2 separate regions of the Homo sapiens genome follow, and region 2 is linked to region 1. Evidence: fine-mapped expression QTL. A gene starts in region 1. The other region holds a variant in brackets. All regions are shown on one strand. Distances are from middle to middle. Region 1 holds the start of LINC01257 (long intergenic non-protein coding RNA 1257). Region 2 overlaps LOC105370082 (a long non-coding RNA gene).

What was found. PIP is the estimated chance that this variant, and not a neighbour inherited with it, causes the effect.
Region 2: its variant is fine-mapped to the expression of LINC01257 in thyroid (GTEx, PIP above 0.99).

Annotation. Positions count from the first base shown.
Region 1 is chr12:131,162,579-131,167,947 of GRCh38, forward strand. LINC01257 (long intergenic non-protein coding RNA 1257) reads left to right here and starts at 2,433. Exons shown (of 5, transcript NR_026670.2): 1 at 2,433-2,652.
Region 2 is chr12:131,231,820-131,237,188 of GRCh38, forward strand. It overlaps LOC105370082 (a long non-coding RNA gene), which reads right to left. Exons shown (of 4, transcript XR_945559.3): 4 at 1-5,369. Among named protein-coding and RNA genes, the nearest start is that of LINC02415, 63 kb to the right of the region's middle. RefSeq lists an enhancer at 2,882-3,491. The variant T/C (reference allele first, on the strand shown) is at 2,427.

The sequences.
Region 1 (5,369 bases):
TGTGCGTGTTATCTCTATGTGTGTACCACCTGGCTGCATTTCTTTAAGGGCTGTTCCATGGATTATGTGTATATTAACTGCATGCCATCTACATGCAACCTACACATTCACTCACCCAGGGAGTGAATGGTTGCTCACGTGTGTTATTATAACCGTGCAGGCTGCTCGCGTGTGTTGTTATGACCGTGCAGGCTGCTGGCATGCACTGTCTGTATTTCCTGTGTCCATGGTGCCTTCATGTTACCTAAGTGTGTCAGCATCTTGTGTCACTTGTGCCTGTCATCTGTTTGCTGGTGGTCATTTGTGTTGCCACGTGAGTCTTGTATTTTACCTGATATGTCGTGTGTGTGCGTTCTGCTGCAGGCTACTTCTGTGCGTTTGCCTGTAAACAACCTGTGTGTGCCACCTCCTATTACCTGGGCCTGCTGCTCTGTGTATTAAACCATTCCCGCATGCTCCCGTCTGTCCGCTGCTCGTGGGAGGAGTCTGCGGATTCCTTCCTTGTATGACCTGCATGGTGCTGTGTGTGGCGCTGCCTGGGTGTATCTGCATCACCCATGTTTGTGCCACCTGCACCTGTACTTATAGGTGTCACACACGCAGGCTGCTGACATGATTATTACCTATGTGCTACATGTGGACACTGCCAGTGTCACCCAGGCACGGGGGCTCATGGATACTCATATGCTGCCGCCAGCGGAACGCACCCTTCCCTCTACTGCGGCGCGAGGGGCGGGTAGAGACGAAGGCTGGTAGGAAACTCTGGGGAACTCCGGGTCCTCCAGCTGCTTCCGACAGGGCCCTCCGGGTCACGGGAAGAGCCGGCCGCTGTCCTCACCGGGACCGGGACCAGGACCGGGACCGCGACGGCATCTCCCCGCCCGTCCCTGAGCCCCTCCTTCCGCTGGCCAGGACCCTCGGAAGCGAGCCCGAGCCACTCCCCCTCCGACCAGGGGTCGTCCAGAGGCCTGGCTCGGGGAGCCCCGCTGCTGCCCGGGTGGCAAGTGCTGCGGCCCCTCTGTGGACTCCTGCCCGGCTGGCGCGGCCCTTCTCCGGCCTGACCCTGTTTCTCTGTCCCGCACGGGCAGACGCGGGGACAGCGGGCTCTGAGGGCTCGGGGCTGGCGTCCAGGCGGGGTCTGCCCGGTGCCCCCCCCCCATGCTGCCTTGAGGCCCCTCGCGATCCCAACGCCCGCGCCCTCCGGGTTTTCACAGCAGGGAAATTGAGGCCACGGGCCCAGGTCAGGACCGCGCAGCAAGGAAGGGGAGTGATCCAGGTTCTGGGGTTCCGGATTCTGATCCGGCTCTGTGTGGATGAGGACTCCTTGGGCTAGGAAGCCCAAAAGCCAAGAAACGCTCAAATGAGCTCAAGGAAATAAAAGCGGGGAGGGGACCTGGCCCTGGAAACGCTGCAGCACAGACCTGGCTGCAGGCTCGACTGGATCCAGGGCTCCAGTGATCTTTTTTTCTGTCTCATATCTGGGCCTTCAGCGGCTTTGGCCCTGCTAATGCCCCAATCAGGGACCTCTACCTGGCAGGCTCCCCCTACAAAGGAGTAAGATGGCTGCAGCTGCTTCCTGGCTTCCTCTCAGCTCCGTAGCTCTCCCGCCAGCCCTGGGGCAGGTCCTGGCATGCACTCTGATTGGACTGGCAGAGTCATGTGACCAGGTCTGTACCAATCATAGGCCCAGGGCACAGCCACCTGACACTCTGATTGGACTTGCTCCGGCCATGTAGCCAGCTCTGCACCAATCACAAAGCCAGAGCACAGCCTGTGGAAGTGTAACAACCTTTCCCATTGGCCAGGGAACAAATCCTGATGCTCACTCCGATTGGACTTGCTCGGGCCACGTGACCAGCCCTGCACCAATCACAGAGCCAGGGTAAGGGGCTTCCAACCACACCTGGGCCACAGGCCCCTTCATAGACCAAGAGTCCTTGTAGCGGTCCCAGCGTCTTAGCTGTGGGTGTGGGGGCTCCTGAGTGAAACTCGGGAGGTCCCGGAAGGAGGGGGCGAGGCCCTCAGCAGCTGTGGAGTCTGTGCCCTGAGGCCCCACACTGGGAACTGGGGACGAGGAGACGGGGACGCGGCCCGGGTCTTGACCTCCTCAGGCTCACCAGACACTGCGTTCAGGCCTCCGGGACGGTCCTGGTGGGGCTCGGCCCCCCTCGTCCTGCGCCTCCTCTGGGCCCGCGGGTCCCCAGCTCCCCCAGCCCCGCCGCGGGCCGCACCTCTCTGGACGGCGCTGTCAGGAGTAGGAGTTCAGCCCCAGCGCATCCGCGCCAGGACCCGGGCTCTGTGGCCACTGAGTGCAGAACACGCCGAGCTTCGGAGGTCTGGGAGTTCCAAGTGGAATTTGAATTTTTAATCTAATTGTCTGATTCGTGAACTCGGAAGCTGACGTCACGCCCAGACGTCCCAAGGTATGAGCTGTAGATACGCATGTGAGCGCTGGTGGGAGACGCCAGGCTGGGATTTCCGCTCGATCTGGGAATGAGCAATGCAACCTAATGACACCCGGAGCTCCTGAATCACCTGGGGAAGATGAAGAGAGACACTCTCTGGTGGGAACGTCTCCTAGAAACAAGGCCTAAGATGGGGCGACCACAGCCCCACAGCTGTGTCCAGATGCAGGGAGCACTCGCCTGTGCTGTAAGTCTGTCCCACGGTGGAGAAAGGGCCCAAACCCCACAGCCCTGCGGTCCACCCTTCAAGTGATTTGGGCGTGCTCTCTTTCAGCACTCATGAGTCCCCCAGCAGGTGGGGGTTGTGGGGAGAATCCACATCAGCAGTTAACCCCCTCACTTTGGTCTGTGAAGCCCTACACGCTCCTCTGTCTTCATTTCCTCAGCGTCATATGCTTGACTTTCTCCACCCCCAACCTGCTCTGCCTCTGTGATTATCTTCCTTTTTCTTTACTTCAGGACCTTTGCACTTGCTTTTCCTTCTGCTTGGAAAGCTCTTCCCACAGCCAGTTGGGTGTCAACTCTTTCCCATCATTCTAGTGGGAGAGTTACCTCTCCAGAAACCCCCTCTGGGACCTCCTTTTTCAAGCCTACCCTACTCTCCACCGTTTCACCCAATTTGGTTCCCTTCATAGCTGGCATCACTGTCTTGATGAGGGCTGAGCCCATGTGTGTCTTGCTCACTGCCATGTTTTCAGGATTGAGAGGCTGTTAGTACATAGTAGGTGGTAAGTAAACATTTGGTTGAATCCATGAACATCTATCATGCACGGTGGCAGCCCATTATGGGGAAGATACTGGCTTAGAGGAAGATGCCCAGAGTCCCCTGGAGAAATGGAGGAAGGCTTCACAGAGGAGGGGGCTCTCCATGAAGGCAGATTCACCAGGCTGGCAATGGGAGAGGACATTCCAGGGGTGGAAACCAGCAGGGCCAAGGCTTAAAGAGTGCACACAGTGGGGTGAAAGGGAACTGCTGGAAGTGGGGGAAATGGGAGATGGAGGAAGGTAGGGCAGCAGGTGAAGCTGGAGAGGAGGCAGGGGAAAGCCTTCTGCCCCAGGATCGGATCCTCTGAGGGAGGGGGTAAAATGATGGTCACCAAGATCAGATTTAATCTGCAGGCCTGTGAAGGAGGCACTGGGCTCCTGGTAAATAAGAAATCTCCCAGGGCAGAGACGTCACGCTGGAGGACCACGTGCTGGGCAAGATCCTCAGGTGTTTACTTAACATGATCAGTGTTAACATTTGAATTAGTGGCTGATGCTTAAAATTGAGAGGTTTTGTTTGTAATCCAGGTTTCTGATTTTCCTGAACAGTCAGGACTCTGATTACCTCAGGCCCCATTCTCAAATGGCAGCCATGGCTGAGCAGTGGACATTCCCTCCTGGGGGCATGCTCTCACCAGCTCATCCAGCCCACCCGCTCCATTTCTCCTGTAGCCATGTGCCCGAGGGTGTTCTGAAGATTCCAACTTTGCATCAACTCATATTCACTGAATGGATCTTTGGAAATGGTGATACTGTTTTTGACCTTGAGAAAGTTTGACTTTCATGTTACATGAGATGGACAGACAAGCAGTTCAACATATCACAGGACAGCATCTGTGTGTGGAAATAGTGGGGAGAACAGAGATGGTGTGGTTAGCAGAATCACGCCCCCCCAGTATGTCCATACTTAAATCTGTGGGATGTATAAATATGTTACTTCACATGGGAAAAAGGGCTTTGCAGATGTGACTAAAGGTATTGGCCTTGAGATAGGGAGAGCATCCTGGGTTGTCCAGGTGAGCCCAGTGTCATCATGTGAGTCCCTAAGATAGGATAACTTTCCCAGCTGGGTCAGAGAGATGAGTCAGAAGGAGGAGAAATTCAAAGCTTGAGAGAGCCTCACCCTGTTGCTGGCTTGGAAGGTAGAGAAAGCTGCCAAGGCATGCACATGGCCCCTAGAAGTTGGGAAGGCTGAGCCGATAGGCAGAGAGAAAACAGGGGTCTCAGTCTTACAACTACAAGGAAATGAATTCTGCCAACAACCTGAATGTGTCAGCAAATTATCCTCCCCTAGGGTCTCCAAAAAGGAACACAGCCTGTGGATACCTTGATGTTAGTCCAGTGAGGTCCACGTCAGACTTCTGACTTACAGAACTGCAAGAAAATATTTGTGTTGTCTAAGCCACTAAGTTTGTGGTGATTTGTTGGGGCCGTAGTGGGAATCTAAGATAGGTGGTTATGGTTCTGGAAGTAAAGGAAAGCTGCCCTTCAGCTTGCAGAGACTGGAAGGCAGCTCCACTTGAGGCCAGGGGTGTATGTGCAAGGTATTGGGTGGGGAGAGCTGACCTTAGGATGGAGAATAGAAACAAATGTGCTGAGAAGGATGCGTCCAGCTGCCCAGGAGAGAACGCTGGCAGTGCTCACCAGTATCCTGAAAGGTAGAACAGGGTGAGTCAGCCCCAAATAACCACCACCATGAACTGGAATCCTGAGAGCGAATTACCCACTTAGCAGAGTGCTGACGCTGCCATTTGCTTAGCAGACTTGGCAGAGGATCAGCAGAACGACTTCCTAGAAATGCTGGGGCAAAGAAACACATTGGAAAGTGTGTGATCTGCTGAAGTGTTTTTATTTTCTATTGAGAATGTTGTGTTTGTGCTTTTTGTGTCCTAACTGTGAAATGATACATTGAAAGATTGATTTTGTTAAGAAACTGCTCTTTGCTTGCTATGATCTTCTGGTATTTTTGAAAGGTTCTCAGGGAGGGGGTCATTTCTTTTTTTCTATCACTGGCAAGTCTGAATCACACACCATTATTTATAGAGTAGTTGGGCAATTTCTCTCAGCTTTTCTGATCACCAGCTGTACCAGCTCTGGCATAGATCTTAGAACGTTGTCTGTGGCCTGTGGCGGTGATGA
Region 2 (5,369 bases), 69 kb after region 1:
CTCTTCCTCCTTCTCCTCCTCCTCTTCCTCCTCTTCTCCTCATCCTCCCCTCTTCCTCCCCTCCTCCTCTTCCTCTTGCTCTTCCTCCTCCTCCTCCCCTCCTCCTCCTCCTCACCTCCTCCTCCTCCTGTCCCTGGTGGGTGAGCCATCAGCAGTGACCAGCCACACACTTTGAGTCTGGGGACAGCAACCTGGATTCCGGTCTTGCCTCTGCCTTAGCCTCACTCTGTGGCCCTGGGTGAGTCCTGTCCCTTCTCCAGGCCTCAGTTTCCTCACTCATAAAATGAGGAAATTGGACTCGTTCTTGGCTCCTCAAACTCCAGTCTTCACTTCCCACCTTCCATGTTCCATACACATTACTTATTCCACGTTTTTCTTTAAATCATCTCACTTTCACTTCACTAAATTCCTCTAAAGAGGAAACATATTTCACCACCATAAGCAGAAAATCATTCTCACTTACCATAAGCAGAAGGTGGCTTGAACGTGAAATGAAGACAAAATGATGTTATTCACAACTAGCTAAGGCCTCGTCTGCCCAAAGCTCTGAGTCTGATGCCCACTCACAGGGGTTGAAAAATCAAACACCACCGGGGGCCAGGATGGGATTTTATTTGCATGTTAAAATGATAATGATGAGGCAGAAACTTAACAATCTATATTCTTCAGGTGTACAGGCTCACTCAACCCTCGTAAGAGCCAGAAAAGGGGCCGGATGCGGTGGCTCACCCCTGTAATCCCAGCACTTTGGGAGGCCGAGATGGGTGGATTGCTTGAGCCCAGGAGTTTGAGACCAGCCTGGGCAACATAGTGAGGCCCCATCTCTATTAAAATTGGTTTTAAAAAAGAGCCAGAAGTGGCAGGTGCTGTTCTCATCCCCACTTCACAGACGAGGAACCTGAGGGTCCGAGACACAGGAAGCTGCTTGATCCTCCAGCCAGGATGAGGCTGAGGGAGAGCCCAGGCCAACCCGCTCTTGGAGTTTGGACTTTCAACCGCGAATTTTCCACAACCGTATGGAAATGTTCGTCCAGGGGTTCTGGAAACACTCAGTCCCCATGGTCTGTCTTCTGTTTTCCTATTTTTGGTAAGCATTAAAAACAAAACAAAACAAAACAAAAGCTCTTCCCTTTCCCTGTTGGTCCATTCTGAGGAAGCGTCACCCAATGTGGTGACAAACAGTAAGTGGCATCAGCCCCAGCGTGGCAGTGATAGGGCGTGGTGGGGACTGTGGCGCGGAGAGTCCCCACAGGAAAGGGAGCAGCGGCTTCACCCACAGATGCTGCAGCAAGGAGAGCCCCGTGCCAGCTGCCCAGGCTGTTGGATCCGTTCAGGGATCCGGCTTGCACGTGGGCCCACGAAGGGGGTCTGCACGCAGGCAGGGTCTCTGTTCCCCGAGCGTCTATCCCCAGCACCCACAGCAGTGCCCAGCTCAGCTAGGGTGCAATAAATGATGTGTGAACTGGTGAATTCATGGAAATCTCCCACTTTTTACCTATTGGGGATTAATTCCATGTTTTAAGTCTGGGCCGGCAGTGCCACGTGGTCCTCCAGGTGTGTCCTCTGTCAGGTGCTAGAGGACACCCCAAGGTCAGCAGGGGCTTCTGCTGGGTCTCTGAGCCATTATTCTCTCGCCTGCCTCACGTGAACACAGGTTTCCTGGGTGGAGTTTAGTTGAGAGATCGCAGTCATTCGCAGGAGGAAACCTGCTGCTCCCTCAGGGGTGCAGTGAGTTTCAGGCATTAGGACGGAGCCAACACCCAGGCTTCCTAAAGCCCTGAACATAAATTTCTCTCAACTCCCTTTTCTTGGGAATTAGCAAATCAAACACTGTATTTTTCAGTGTCTCAAATCTTGCTTCCTTCCAGCTGAGCCCAAGGAGAGTGAAGGGCAGAGGGTGGCACAGGGTGGAGATTTGAGAAGTTTAATTAAAGCCTCAGGTTCAGGCGCAGGGTGATCCTGATCCATCACCAAGGTGTGGCCGCTCCCACTTCATGAAAAGACAGCCCAGCCCTGAGGATCAGAGCCATCTCTCAGATGGAGGAGAAGTCAACGCCTGACAGCCTTCGCTCATTTGACAGATGCTTCCCCTGAATTCTCCTCTTGGTAATAAAGTGGTCTCCATGGTAACTGTTGAGGCCTTGATGATGGATTAGACAGGCTATTTTTAATCATCCTGAAAACAATGTTGGCAGGCATGTAAAATCCTTCCAGAATCTTCCAGCTCAGCCGAGCCACCAGCAGGATGCAACTGAGGAAGTGAACCCAGGCAACGCCACAGCAGAAGAGCCACCCAGCTGGGCCCTGCCCAAGATCCTGACCACAGAATTGTGAGAAATGATGGATTACTGATTTTGTTTGAAGTGACAGCATTTTTTGGGTGGTTTGTTAAGCGGTGAGACGTGAGTCAGGACAGGTGGTACAGA[T/C]TGGGCATGGCTGGGACTTTAGTCAGCCAGGAGAAGTTGTCCGGCATGGCTGTCCACCGGTCTAGGACCCAGGCCACACCGCCCTGCACCTGGTTACCTGCAGCTCATGTTAGTGCTGCCTGGCTGTGTGTGTCCCCTCTTTCTCATTAGGTGCTTTAGTGCCCTCCTGGAATGTCAGGATTTAATTTCCATTCAGCTTTAATAAGTCCTCCTGGACCGTGTGCTCACAACTGAAATTAATTTCTCCAGCCTGGCTTTGGCGATTTTCATCCTTAATTCCTCTGTGTCCCCAGGGCACCTCCAAGCATGTTGTCTTAATTCATCTTCTGTGATTCAACAAAGGGATTGTCCCAGCGTGGGGCACCCGCATGCCATGCACGTCTCACCGCAGCCACACCTGGGCCAGGTAGGATTAGTTCAGAACTGCTTTTGAGGGGCTGTTGTCATGGACACCAAGGGGCAGGTCCATTTCTGGTCACAGACGTGCATCCAGCTTCTGTCTGCAGCCAAATGGAAGCAGCTGCATTTGCTGAAGCCACAGGGGCCTGTGGTCGCCGGTCCTGGGTCATTTTGCCTGCCTGGCATTTGTTCCCTCTCCTTCCAGTAACAAGCCCTGATGGGCTCTGCGCAGCCACACCTTCCCCCTCAGCTGTCACAGCCCCGTTGGAATTGCTTTCTCCTGGGCCAAGCATTTCACAGAGGCTGCACCACTCAGCCCCTCCTAGTCCGCTGGAGAAAGTGGCTGAGGGGGTGGTGGGGGATAATTGCATTTCCAAAGTCCGGGCAATCAGCCAATGTAAACAGGCACCTGCGTCACTGTGTGGGCTCTCTAGGCAACAGGTAAAATACATCAAATACACACAATTTCCTGACATTCCAATGCATTTCTGCGTGAGCTGGGATGGGGGAGGCCGCTGTTCCTCTGGGCTGTTTCTCCTCTCAGCTCTGAGCCGAGCAGCAGGTGGGCTCCTGAATCCCCATCTCCAGGCTCAGGGCTGCTGGCCACCTGCCTGACAGCCCCTTTCTCACCCGAGCCAGGGGCTCTCTGCCCTGCTCTGCAGAAACCTCCCTGGCCTGGCCACCTGCCTGACAGCCCCTTTCTCACCCGAGCCAGGGGCTCTCTGCCCTGCTCTGCAGAAACCTCCCTGGCCTGGCCACCTGCCTGACAGCTCCTTTCTTTTTGTGTTTTCTTTTTTTTTTTTTTTTTTGAGATGGACTTTCACTCTTGTTGCCTAGGCTGGGGTGCAATGGCGTGATCTCGACTCACTGCAACTTTTGCCTCCCAGGTTCAAGCGATTCTTCTCCCTCAGCCTCCAGAGTAGCTGGGATTATAGGCATACACCACCACACCCGGCTAATTTTGTATTTTTAGTAGAGATGGGGGTTTCTCCATGTTGGTCAGGCTGGTCGGGAACTCCCAACCTCAGGTGATCCACCTGTCTTGGCTTCCCAAAGTGCTGGGATTACAGGTGTAAGCCACTGCGCCTGGCCTGACAGCCCCTTTCTCACCGGAGCCAGGCGCTCTCTGCCCTGCTCTGCAGAAACCTCCCTGGCCTGGCCAGCAGCCTCAGAGGCCTCAGAAAATGTCCTGGCTGCAGGTGAAAGAAGACGAGGGTGCAGCTTCCCCAGCGTGCTCTGAGCTCAACCCACCAGACACAACCCCCTCTCACGGTCACACGGGCCCCCGGGCTCCCCTGTGGGAAAGGCCAGTGGAAATGGCAGCATGGACGGAGGCATCCATGGCCCTGTGATGCATGGCTGTGTCAGTGGATGATCTGAGAATTCACCCGGTCCCCAGCACCCCATATCCGCCACCCCATCCTGCTGCTCTTCTCTTTCTCTCTCATGACCTTCTGCCCCTCTGGGCTCCTCACTGAGGACCACCAGGACTGTCCCCGACACCGATGCTAGCTGGGATGTCCGGGCGTCCCTCCCACAAGGTCTGTGCCTGGAGAGGGATGGGCACTGGTGTAAGGCCCACTATGGGGGGAGACCAAGGGCGGGCAGCTCACCCAGGTGCTGAGGAATCCAGGCAGAGCACAGTGTCCTTTGCTGCAGGGTCTGAGGGCTCTCTGCCCATAGAGCTGCTGCGGCTACGCACTGTTACATCTCCGGAAGATGTGCCTTGTTATGCTCTCAGTACTTATAAAAAAGGAATTCTCTGTCCACAATTTATTCCTGTGCTTTAAAAGTTTGAATTCCAGTGGAAAAGCAGCAAGAAGACATGAGCCTCAAGGATGGTTCTGGAGATGGGTCTGATGATTGTGCTTGGTCCACCAAAGCTTCCCACGAGAACAGCATGTTTGTTTTTGCTGACACCCCCAGCCCCCAAGCTCAGTTCCTCTCTTGGGAGGCTGAGGGGTCACAGGGTCCTGAAGTGTCCCCGGGCTCACACCCAAATGGAAGACCTGTTTTCCTCAGGAAGTAATCCTCGCCAAGCATGTCAGGTGTAGGATACCATATGTCAGAAGTCACAACAGGAGGCCGGGCACGGTGGCTCACGCCTGTAATCCCAGCACTTTGGGAGGTTGAGGTGGATGGATCACCTGAGGTCAGGAGTTCAAGACCAGCCTGGGAAACATGATGAAACCCTGTCTCTACTAAAAATACAAAAATTAGCCGGGCGCAGTGGCACATGCCTGTAAATCCCAGCTACTCAGGAGGCTGAGGCCGGAGAATCGCTTGAGCCCGGGAGGTGGAGGTTGCAGTGAGCCAAGATCAGGCCACTGTACTCCAGCCTGGGTGACAGAGTGAGACTCTGTCTAAAACAAACAAACAAACAAAAAAAGAAGTCACAACGGGTGATGAAAAGCAAAACAATTTCATTTGCATCTCTCCAGTTCTTAGCAGGCTTCCACTGGGCGCTGAGTTCCAGGTCTATATTTATTCACCATCCGTTAAGTCACTGAATTTGAATTACACACTTTTGAGGATTCTGAATGG